Homo sapiens: one gene and its partners. The protein of the gene in region 1 purifies or fractionates together with the protein of each later gene. This does not show direct contact. Each region holds a gene or a part of one and is shown on either strand. Other genes may lie near its edges. The genes, in order: TMCC3, RNPEPL1 and POC1A.

Region 1 (3,649 bases):
CCTCTGGAATAAAGCACTGGGCAGGATTTATAACGTGGTGAAGTGTTAATACCCGTTGTTGGATATGGTCCATATTCAAGTCTGGATCACCTAGAGCATTAGTCTGTTCTCACATTGCTATAAAGAAATACCTGAATCCTGATAATTTATAAGAAAAGAAGTTTAATTGGCTCACGGTTCTGCAGGCTGTGTACAGGAAGCATGGCTTCCTCTGGTTCTGGGGAGGCTGCGGGGAGCTTTTACTCATGGTGGAAGGCAGAGCGGGAGCAGGCACTTCCCACGGCGAAAGCAGGAGGATGCCTGCAAGAGACGGGAGGTGCTACACACTTTTAAACAACCAAATCTCAGGAGGACTCACTACCATGAGAACAGCAGCAGAGGGATGTTGCTAAACCATTCATGAGAAATCCGCCCCCATGATTCGATCACCTCCCACCAGGCCTCACCTCCAACACTGGGGATTACAATTGAACATGAGATTTGGATAGGGACACAGATCCAAACCATATCACTTAGTGGGAGATTCATTAATTTTTTACTAATTTTTTTGCTGTCAGCCCACTAATTCCTTAAAAAAAAAGGTAACATGCTGAATATTGTCTTGCTTCTCATTTGATTTCTATTAAGACTGTATATCAAGTCATTAATCTAATCAAAGGGATATTGACAAATGAGATGCTTCAGTTTGGATCTTAAGACTTGTTTGTAGATTGTGTTTGAACTCTACAAAGAGCTGTTTTTCATCCTCCAGGAACATCAACAATGGAGTGACCTGACATGGAAAGAGGGTTACAGTTAGGATGACTTGGATTCAAATCCTGGCCTTAACCCTTGGTGTCTACATGTTTATGAATCTAGCATGTTCTTTGTCTGGCATGGTAGTGAAGTGAGACAACCCATGAGAGGCATCCATAGACCCTGGGATATGGTCTACTTCTGCCTTTTCCTTTTAGAGCACAAACTTGCCACCCCCTTCACCAGGAAACTCAATGCTGCGTTGCAGTTCTTTTCCCTAAATGGCCCTTGAGTGAGAAAACTATTTTATGTGGTCTTAGTTTTCTCATTATTTTATTTATTTATTTTTTGAGACAGAGTCTCACTCTGTTGCCCAGTCTAGATAGAGTACAGTGGTGTGATCTCGGCTCACTGCAACCTCCACCTTCCGGGTTCAAGTGATTCTCCTGCCTCAGCCTCCCGAGTAGCTGGGATTACAGGTGCCCACCACCATGCCCAACTAATTTTGTATTTTTAGTAGAGATGGGGTTTCACCATGTTAGCCAGGCTGGTCTCAAACTCCCGACTTCAGGTGATCCACCTGCCTGGGCCTCCCAAAGTGCTGGGATTATAGGTGTGAGCCACCTCGCCCAGCAGCGCCACGCCCCCACCCCCCGGCCTTTTTTTTTTTTAATATCACTGTGGTGTGGTTTGAGGTTGTTTCCATATCTAAATACTGTTGTATTACCCAATTATTAAAGTTAATCTTGTACCATATTATTCTATCACATCTATTTAATGATTCCATTAAGAAAATAATGTTCTTGTTTGATGGATGTACCTGCTCGTATCTTTTTCCCTATTTTTCCCCATCTTTCTTTTTTAAAAAAAAAAAAAAAAAAAAAAAAAAAAAGATTCTCCTTCTATTAAGTGAGTGAGTTCTGAGTTGGATGCGTTCCCCATAGTGGTGAAGTTCCCAGTGAATGTGGTATGGCAGGCATTCCAGTTACCTGGGCACTTTGGGAGACCGGGACTGACTGGTGACCTCATTCTATTTTGCGTTTTCTACCCTGGGAGCCAGGTTACAGTCTCATTACACAAAAAAAGTGGATACCCTGGGAGATCTGAATCTCACAGCTACTTAGTGTAGATGGATGCAGGAAGGAGCCAGGCTGCCTCTATGTTCAACTGGAGGGGACAGCAGGGGGATTTTATCCCGTGACACTTGTAGTTCGAAAAACTGGGACTTCATGTATGTATCTTGTATGTGCATAGATTCTGTCACAGTAATTATCTCTTTGACTTCAAATTTTAATGTGCTTCTTTCCTGTCTCTTTCAGGTAGAACGTCATGACATGAATACCTTAAGCCTGCCCCTGAACATACGCCGAGGGGGGTCAGACACCAACCTCAACTTTGATGTCCCGGATGGCATCCTGGACTTCCACAAGGTCAAACTCACTGCAGACAGCCTGAAGCAAAAAATTCTAAAGGTAACAGAGCAGATAAAAATTGAGCAAACATCGCGCGATGGGAATGTTGCGGAGTATCTGAAACTAGTGAACAACGCAGACAAGCAGCAGGCGGGACGTATCAAGCAAGTCTTTGAGAAGAAGAATCAGAAATCAGCTCACTCCATCGCCCAGCTGCAGAAGAAGTTAGAGCAGTATCATCGAAAGCTCAGAGAGATCGAGCAGAATGGAGCCTCTAGGAGCTCAAAGGACATTTCCAAAGACCACCTGAAGGATATACATCGCTCTTTGAAAGATGCCCACGTGAAATCTCGAACTGCCCCCCATTGCATGGAGAGCAGCAAATCGGGCATGCCAGGGGTCTCACTTACTCCACCTGTGTTCGTTTTCAATAAGTCCAGAGAGTTTGCCAACCTGATCCGGAATAAGTTTGGCAGCGCCGACAACATTGCTCACTTGAAAAATTCCTTAGAGGAGTTTAGGCCAGAGGCGAGTGCCAGGGCCTACGGGGGCAGCGCTACCATCGTGAACAAACCCAAGTATGGCAGTGATGATGAATGTTCGAGTGGCACGTCAGGCTCGGCCGACAGTAACGGAAACCAGTCGTTTGGGGCTGGTGGAGCCAGCACACTGGACAGCCAGGGCAAGCTCGCCGTGATCCTGGAGGAACTGAGGGAGATCAAGGATACCCAAGCTCAGCTGGCTGAGGACATCGAGGCACTGAAGGTGCAGTTTAAGAGAGAATATGGTTTTATTTCTCAGACCCTGCAAGAGGAAAGATACAGGTATTTCAAAGTATTCCATTGGCGTGTTTTTTATTTTTTATTTATTTATTTTTTTATTTTATGTTATTTTATTTTTTCATTTTGAAAACTTTTTTATTACCACGGATACTTAGTGGGTACGTGATAGGTGTGGCATTCTTTTAAAAGGATGAGTTACTGCAGAGAGATTGCTTGAAATAAGAATGCCTTATGGTTACATTTTCAATAAATATGGATATGGATTAAAGGGCGTTTAGCAATCAATACATCCCTAATGTATTGATGCATCCCTCATGCAAAACTCTGAAATCCAGAATGTTCCCAAATCTGAAACTTTTGGAGTGTCAGCACAATGCCACAACTGGAAAATTCCACAAATAAATACTTAACACAAACTTGAGGCACAAAATTATTTAAAATATGGTACACTTTTACCTTCAAGCTATGTGTATATGATGCATAGGAAACAAATGAATTTTGTCTTTAGACTTGGGTCCCATTTTTGAGGTATCTCCGTATATATATGCAAATATTCCAAAATCTGAAAAAAATCAAAATCTGAAACACTTCTGGTCCCAAGCATTTCAGATAAGGGATACCCAATAATTTCCATCCTTCATGATTCTAAGTTTATAATTTGTGGCTTTTAGCTGACAATTAGAGAAGGATTTATGTGTGGGTCCTTAAATTATTGGATAC
Region 2 (3,649 bases), on another chromosome or scaffold:
CTCCCTATTCCACGGGACACTGGTGGTTTCGGACGCCAGCCCAGGTGGGTGTTCACCTTGCAGGAGTGAATCCCAGCCACCTGATGAACCTGTTCACCTACGAGAAGGGCTACTGCTTCGTGTACTACCTGTCCCAGCTCTGCGGAGACCCACAGCGCTTTGATGACTTTCTCCGAGTGAGCAGCCCCCTGCCCGGGACGGCCCTGCTGCCATCTGCCCCCAGCCCCTCCCCGGCTCACAGGGCTGCCTGCTCTTGCGGCAGTTGGGGTGGAACTGGCAGGGGCCTGTGAGCCTGGCTGGGACCTAGTCTGCCTTTCTTTGTGGGGAGTGCCTGGGTTGCCACCTCCCCTTCTGCCACCCTGTTTGCTCCCTTGGCAGGGCCTGCGTGCCAAGTGCTGGCTCCGCAGTGCCCACTAGCTGCCCCTGTGCCCAGCACGTACCTTGGCGCACGCCCTGCAGTGCCCTGCAGGCCTCTGGTGGGGCTGCCTGTGCCCCACCCTTCCAGGCCTGCTGAGGCCCCACCTCTGCCACACAGGCCTATGTGGAGAAGTACAAGTTCACCAGCGTGGTGGCCCAGGACCTGCTGGACTCCTTCCTGAGCTTCTTCCCGGAGCTGAAGGAGCAGAGCGTGGACTGCCGGGCAGGTGAGGCTGACCCCCAACCCTGCAGCCAGGGAGCCGTGGGTATGATGGCAGGCGGGGCCTCTGCTGCCTGAGGGGCCACTCCACCTGGAGGAAAGCCCTGTCAGTTCACTGTCTGTCCTTCAGCCAACCCTTGCTGGACCATGTGGGCCCCAGGCTGGTATGCTATGAGAACAGGGCTGGGGTTGGGGGCCTCCCTGGGGCCGGTGGCACAGGCTAAGCAGGCCGAGTCAGGCACTCCCAGGAAGCGGGCCATGGAAACCAGGTGTGCAAAGGGCCTGGTGCAGGAAGGGCGGGTGACGGGGGTGTCCTGGAGCTGGAGAACAGCAGCCAGCCCTGTTTATGTGTCACTTGTAAAGGTGTCCCTGAGGGTCTGAGGGCTTGGGGCCCAGGAAGGCACTGCAGGGTTCAGACATTGAGGGAGAGGCCAGAATTGCTGGAGGGTGGTGAGGTGCCACTGGGAGGGCTGTGCATGGTGACACCAAGTTTTGGAAGGTACAGCAAGTGCATCAAGAGCTTTTTGTGGGTAGGGAATGGGCACTGCCCTTTAAGAGCAGGAATATCATCTTAAGAGCCTGTTGCCCCCATCCCGCCCCTGCTGGTTCATGGCGCAGGTGGCCTCCACCAGCACTGAGGTTGGGTTTAGACTACTTCATTGTCTTCCACCCAGGAGAGGCGTGGAGTGGGTGCGAGTCCCTTGGTCACCAACCCAAGTCTCTGCTTCCCTGTACCCCTTCACAGAAGCCCCTTCAGTGGCTTCAAGTGGCAGTGCTGGCTGGAGCTGACTCCGCCTTCCTGAACAGCCCACGTCCCTGGAACAGGCCACCTGCCTGGAACACACTCAGGGTCTGGGGTCTCCTGGGCAGATTGCTCAGGCAGCCCCTTCCTAGCCTGGGCAGGGACCCCAGGGTCACTTCTCCCCTCTAGGGCTGGAATTCGAGCGCTGGCTCAATGCCACAGGCCCGCCGCTGGCTGAGCCGGACCTGTCTCAGGGATCCAGCCTGACCCGGCCCGTGGAGGCCCTTTTCCAGCTGTGGACCGCAGAACCTCTGGACCAGGCAGCTGCCTCGGCCAGCGCCATTGACATCTCCAAGTGGAGGACCTTCCAGACAGCACTCTTCCTGGACCGGCTCCTGGATGGGTCCCCGCTGCCGCAGGGTGAGTCCCTGCAGCTGATGGGGGCGGCCCAGGGGCTGGGGTGCAACAGCGGCCCAGCCCTGACCTGCCCCCTGCGCTGCAGAGGTGGTGATGAGCCTGTCCAAGTGCTACTCCTCCCTGCTGGACTCGATGAACGCTGAGATCCGCATCCGCTGGCTGCAGATTGTGGTCCGCAACGACTACTATCCTGACCTCCACAGGGTGCGGCGCTTCCTGGAGAGCCAGGTGCGGTCACCTGCCCAGGGGGCCAGCCTGGAACGGCCTAGCCGTGCGGACTGGGAGTCCCACCCGACTCCCTAGTCTGAGCCCTTGGGGCAGGCCAGGCACATTCTGGAGAATGGGGCGGGGAAGACGTAGGGGTCTGTTGGGAGTGGGGGCATGCACCGGGTGCAGGTACCAGAGGGCAGCCTGGACTCCACCAGTTCTTGGAGAAACTGTGGAAGGGACCAGCTGGGAGCAGGAGTTTAGGGTCCAGGCCACCACAGCCTGCTGGGCCCTGGGCCTTCAGCGTCCTGGTCTGGGCAGAGGGGACGTCCCAGCTCCTCAGAGGGAGGCCAGAGCCCTCAGGCCCGTGGGCCCTGGCTGCCCTGCTCCCTGTATGTGCTCCCTCCAGCCCAGGTTCCCTGGAGATGGGGCCTCCATGGTTGGCCTGGAAGGGCAGGGTGGAGGTGGGAGGCTAATGGTAGGCCTCCTGGCCACCGGAGTCCAGGCCACAGCCCTAATGATGAAGCTGGGAAGCCAGGGGCAGGAGGGCCGCCTGGCCGGGCTGGCAGGGTGGGCTGGCTCGAGGGGCCTGGGGAGCCCACCAGTGTGACCGAGTGCCCCTCCTGCAGATGTCACGCATGTACACCATCCCGCTGTACGAGGACCTCTGCACCGGTGCCCTCAAGTCCTTCGCGCTGGAGGTCTTCTACCAGACGCAGGGCCGGCTGCACCCCAACCTGCGCAGAGCCATCCAGCAGATCCTGTCCCAGGGCCTGGGCTCCAGCACAGAGCCCGCCTCAGAGCCCAGCACGGAGCTGGGCAAGGCTGAAGCAGACACAGACTCGGACGCACAGGCCCTGCTGCTTGGGGACGAGGCCCCCAGCAGTGCCATCTCTCTCAGGGACGTCAATGTGTCTGCCTAGCCCTGTTGGCGGGCTGACCCTCGACCTCCCAGACACCACAATTGTGCCTTCTGTGGGCCAGGCCTGCCATGACTGCGTCTCGGCTCTGGCCATGAGCTCTGCCCAGGCCCACAAGCCCCTCCCCTGGGCTCTCCCAGGCAGGGAGAATGGGGAGAGGGACCTCCTTGTGTCTGGCAGAGACCTGTGGACCTGGCCTCCCCACTCCCAGCTCTCTTGCACTGCAGGCCCTGGGGCCAGCCCGCACACACCATGCCTCCTGTCTCAACACTGACAGCTGTGCCTAGCCCCGGATGCCAGCACCTGCCAGGTGCCGCCCCGGGGCAAGGGCCCCAGCAGCCCTATGGTGACCGCCACACTGTGCCTTAATGTCTGCCGGGGGCCCAGGCTGTGCTGTCCCTGCAGCACGCCTCCTTGCAGGGATCTGAGCCACCCTCCCCGCACAGCCCTGCACCCCGCCCCTGGGGTTGGCAGCCTCAGTTGGCCCCTGGCAGAGGAACAAGGACACAGACATTCCCTCAGTGTGGGGGGCAGGGGACACAGGGAGAGGATGGTTGTCCCTGGGGAGGGCCCTCTGGCCCCAGGCAACCTTAGCCCCTCAGAACAGGGAGTCCCAGGACCCAGGGAGAGTGTGGGGACAGGACAGCCTGTCTCTTGTAGCTTCCTGGGGTGGGAGGCACAGGGGCAAAGCAATACCCCAGGGAAAGTGGGAGGTGGTGCTGGTGC
Region 3 (3,498 bases), on another chromosome or scaffold:
ATGGTGGCCACCACGAGGCACCTTGGCAGAGAAGGAACAGGGGAAGCTGAGACCAAACACAGAGATGACACAGCTCCTCTGAAGCTAGGCTGGAGGGGGAGAAACTGCCTTGAGGGGTGTTGGGCCTCATAAAAGCCTGTTTGTCTACTGTGCTGTGAAGTGATCCTCAAAGCTCTCAGAGGAAGGCCTCAACGGGGTGGCACCCTTCATGCAGGGGGCTGGTTGTGAAACAGGTGATGCTTCTCTTTTCAAATAATTTAGACACATTTAGTGGTCACATTCCTACTGAGCTGAAGTATGGGCCCCCTATGGAACTAAGTGGAGTCCCTTGTATTGACGTTGGCCCAGCACCTCACCCACGTTTTCTGGGCCCACTATCTCCACGTTTGCAAATTGGGTTCCTGTGAAAAGTTTCAAGAAAAAAAAAAAGGCAGAAGAGGAAAAACAGGCTCCTCTGCTGCGGCCTTGAGTTTGGGGCCATCGGAAAAAGTCTGGATGAAGAATGATTTTGGCCCTATGAGTTTCACAGCAGCCAGTGGAAACTTCCAGGAATGCTGCCCCGGGCCAGCCAGGGGCTGTTTCCGCTGCCACTTTTACGAGCTGCAGACCCCCTCCCCGGCTGGCTGGCCAGCACAGGGGGAATGTGATGGTCTCTTTCAGCTCAGCTCTGCCTCTTAGGGTGCAGTTTGTGTTCCATGGGCAGCAATTTTTCCAGGCTCTGTCCAGTGACAGAGGGTTCAGAGCCCTCACAGCCCTGATTGGCCCATTTAGAAGGGGCCAGCCACCAGGCGGAGCACCCTCCATGGCAGCTAATGTCTGTGCCGGACGCTGCAAGAATTTATAGCAGCCTTAAAGGGGGAGACTCCCTTCTAAAATGTTTCAATGTTTTATTAAATGTATGAAAGAAAGTTTCCTTTCCACTGGACCAAGGCCCAGGACTTCATGGAGCCCCAGGGAAGGGGGCAAAACCTCTTGGGAAAGCACACGGGTGAGGTTAATCTGACCCTCCTGATGCCTATGGGCTGCACAGTACCGGAGTCAAGGCTGCCATACTCACATGGGCTCATCCATTGGCCAGCAGGGGCCTGGCATACAGTAAGGCACTCAGCCAACCCTAAAGAGGGAAGTGAAATGATGCCAAAGGCGTCATGGCCAGCATGGTCCAACCCGCGCAAGTGATGAGTGGGGCAGGCTTGCTCTGGTCCAGCCCCTCTTTGGGGAGCATGCAGGCTCCCAGACAGTGCTGCCCCTCTGCTGACACTCTATCCAAAGCCAGAGGAGGAGGGCAGCTTTTCCCAGCCTGTCTGGGAGCTATGTCTGCAAGACTGGCCCTGGCCCATGAAGCACATGCAGCTCCAGCAGCTGGGGGCCTTTGGCAGGCCAGGCAGCCAGGTCCGCAGGTGAGCCATTGTGCTGGGTGTGTAAGAGAGGCCAGGAGAGCAAGGGCCCAGCTTCAGGAAGGCAGCATGATCTGCCTGACAAGCACTCTGACAAGCATGGTCAGAGTGAGCAACTGCTGGGCTGCTGAGTTACCTAGGCCATGAGCTTGGTTGTCTTTCGCACTGGGCGAAGGAGGAGAAAGTGGGCTCAGAGAGATGAAGTTGTCATGGCCTGTGATTGCCCTGGGCTGAAGTCCCACATGACATATCCTATAGTAGTATTCGTTGGACTTGGACAGGCAGAGACCCTCCTGGGATCAGGGGACTCACCTCCCTGCCTTTGTCCCCTGCCAGCCTGGGAGGCTCTTCCAGGTGTGAGGGGAAGGACCCAAGTGGAGTGCCATCATTTGTGGGTGCAATTTTCTCACCTCTGGAGTGGAGGTGGTTGATGGTCTCCAGTTGTTTATGGACAGTGCCTGGCTCAGACAAGGAAACTGGTTTTGCTGCAGAACTCCAATATAAATGCCAGGCCACCAGGGTGGGGGGTTCCTGACCCCTTGGTTCTCTTGAGAAATGACCAAAGGCTATGGGACCTGCCATCTAGTTTCCCTCACTGTGTCCCCACCCCCTGCCCACAAACATTATAGATCAGCCATCCAGAGCCAGGAGAAGCAGACATAAAGGCAAGGGCTATCCCAATAGCACCAGAGACAAGGGGCCTGGCAGAACCCCTGGGTGGAAAGAGCCAGCTGGCATTTGGGCAGTGGCTGAGGCAGCCAAGTGGGGACTGGCCAAGGGGGTCCCTAGAGCAGCCTGGCGGCCCTTCTGTGTTCTGACCCAACCACTGTTTATTTTGCAGACAGTCTCCATTCTGGAGCAGCGGTTGACACTGACAGAAGACAAGCTGAAGCAGTGTCTGGAGAACCAGCAGCTAATCATGCAGAGAGCAACACCATGATCAGGGGAGCAGGAATCAGGAGCTCGGTGGATTTGCAGGTGGCAGGCCAGGGATTTGTACCATGGGACTTGGGTAAATAAAGGGGACTGAACTCTGTGGGAATCACATCCATACTGGAGCCCTGGATTTTTGCAGTTCTGCCCTCCACCTTGCTATCTGCACCAGGAGGCTCTCCACCTGGCAGCCAGAGGTCCCCAGTGGGCCGGGCTCACACACAAATGATGCTTCAGACCCGAATGAGAGGACCACATTTTGCTTAATGTAAAGGAGCCACTTGAAAATGTCTGCTCCTTCGGGGTCCTGAGATTGTGGCTCCCCCTCTGGAGGAGGTGGCTCCACGATGCCTTGATTTTCACTCATCATTTGGACATGTGACTGGCTTTTCCTACCTCTGCCATGGTGTAGAAATTGATTGCACATTGATTGGATGAGCCGGGGGTTTTCTCTAAATCTGACTAAAGGCCCAAAGTGGGCCCATCTGAGTCAGGTTTGTTGAGAACAAGCCCTCTCAAGTGGGTGGTGGCTTTTCAGTGGCCCTGATTTCTGTTCCACACGTGTTCACTGGAGCCAGGTGACTTCCTCCTTGCGTGAGTGAGGGCACAGGAATCTCAAAATTAAACCTGACTTCATTGCACTTGTTGCAGGAGTGGCTTATGCTGGATGACACTTAATCAATCTTCCCATCCCCAGGGCCCAAACAGAATGAGAATGGTGACTTGGGACGGCCTCTGCCAGGATTGCCTCTGAGGCCAGGACCCCCCTGTTTGCAGCTGTTCAGGGTGTCGGGGAACAAGGGCAGTCAGAGCCCTTGCATGCACCCACCTCCCTCTGGCTGGCCCCCACTGACTGCTTCTGTTGGGACTCAGAGGCCTCAGGCACCCAAGTTTCCATTTGCTCCTGAGGGCTTCCATAGGGTCCTCCCTCTGCCCCTGTGCTGGGGAAGCCAGGACAAATGTTTTCCCTGTGTCTGTGTGTCGCCCGTGCCTTCCGTCTTCAGCTTCTTGGGGCTCAGCCAGCCAAGGAGGTCTTTATCCTCAAACACACCTGCCCTGCCCTGGGGAATGGGAGGTGGTGTTAGATCGTCCCAGGAGCTGTCAGTACCACGTGGTCAGTGGGTTCACAGCCTCTGCAGCCTCCAGGTGGAAGCAGAGCCTGCATGCC

Evidence for each region.
Region 2: the proteins of TMCC3 (region 1) and RNPEPL1 purify together in Homo sapiens (affinity purification with mass spectrometry; one large-scale study listed by BioGRID and IntAct). This does not show direct contact.
Region 3: the proteins of TMCC3 (region 1) and POC1A purify together in Homo sapiens (affinity purification with mass spectrometry; one large-scale study listed by BioGRID and IntAct). This does not show direct contact.

The regions. Positions count from the first base shown.
Region 1 is NC_000012.12:94,580,944-94,584,592, reverse strand, and holds part of TMCC3 (transmembrane and coiled-coil domain protein 3), read left to right. Parts: intron 1-2,054; coding exon 2,055-2,971; intron 2,972-3,649.
Region 2 is NC_000002.12:240,574,967-240,578,615, forward strand, and holds part of RNPEPL1 (aminopeptidase RNPEPL1), read left to right. Parts: intron 1-63; coding exon 64-176; intron 177-535; coding exon 536-644; intron 645-1,568; coding exon 1,569-1,799; intron 1,800-1,881; coding exon 1,882-2,024; intron 2,025-2,632; coding exon 2,633-2,926; 3' UTR 2,927-3,649. UniProt on the Homo sapiens protein: Broad specificity aminopeptidase which preferentially hydrolyzes an N-terminal methionine, citrulline or glutamine.
Region 3 is NC_000003.12:52,074,726-52,078,223, reverse strand, and holds the end of POC1A (POC1 centriolar protein homolog A), read left to right. Parts: intron 1-2,238; coding exon 2,239-2,337; 3' UTR 2,338-2,998; downstream 2,999-3,498.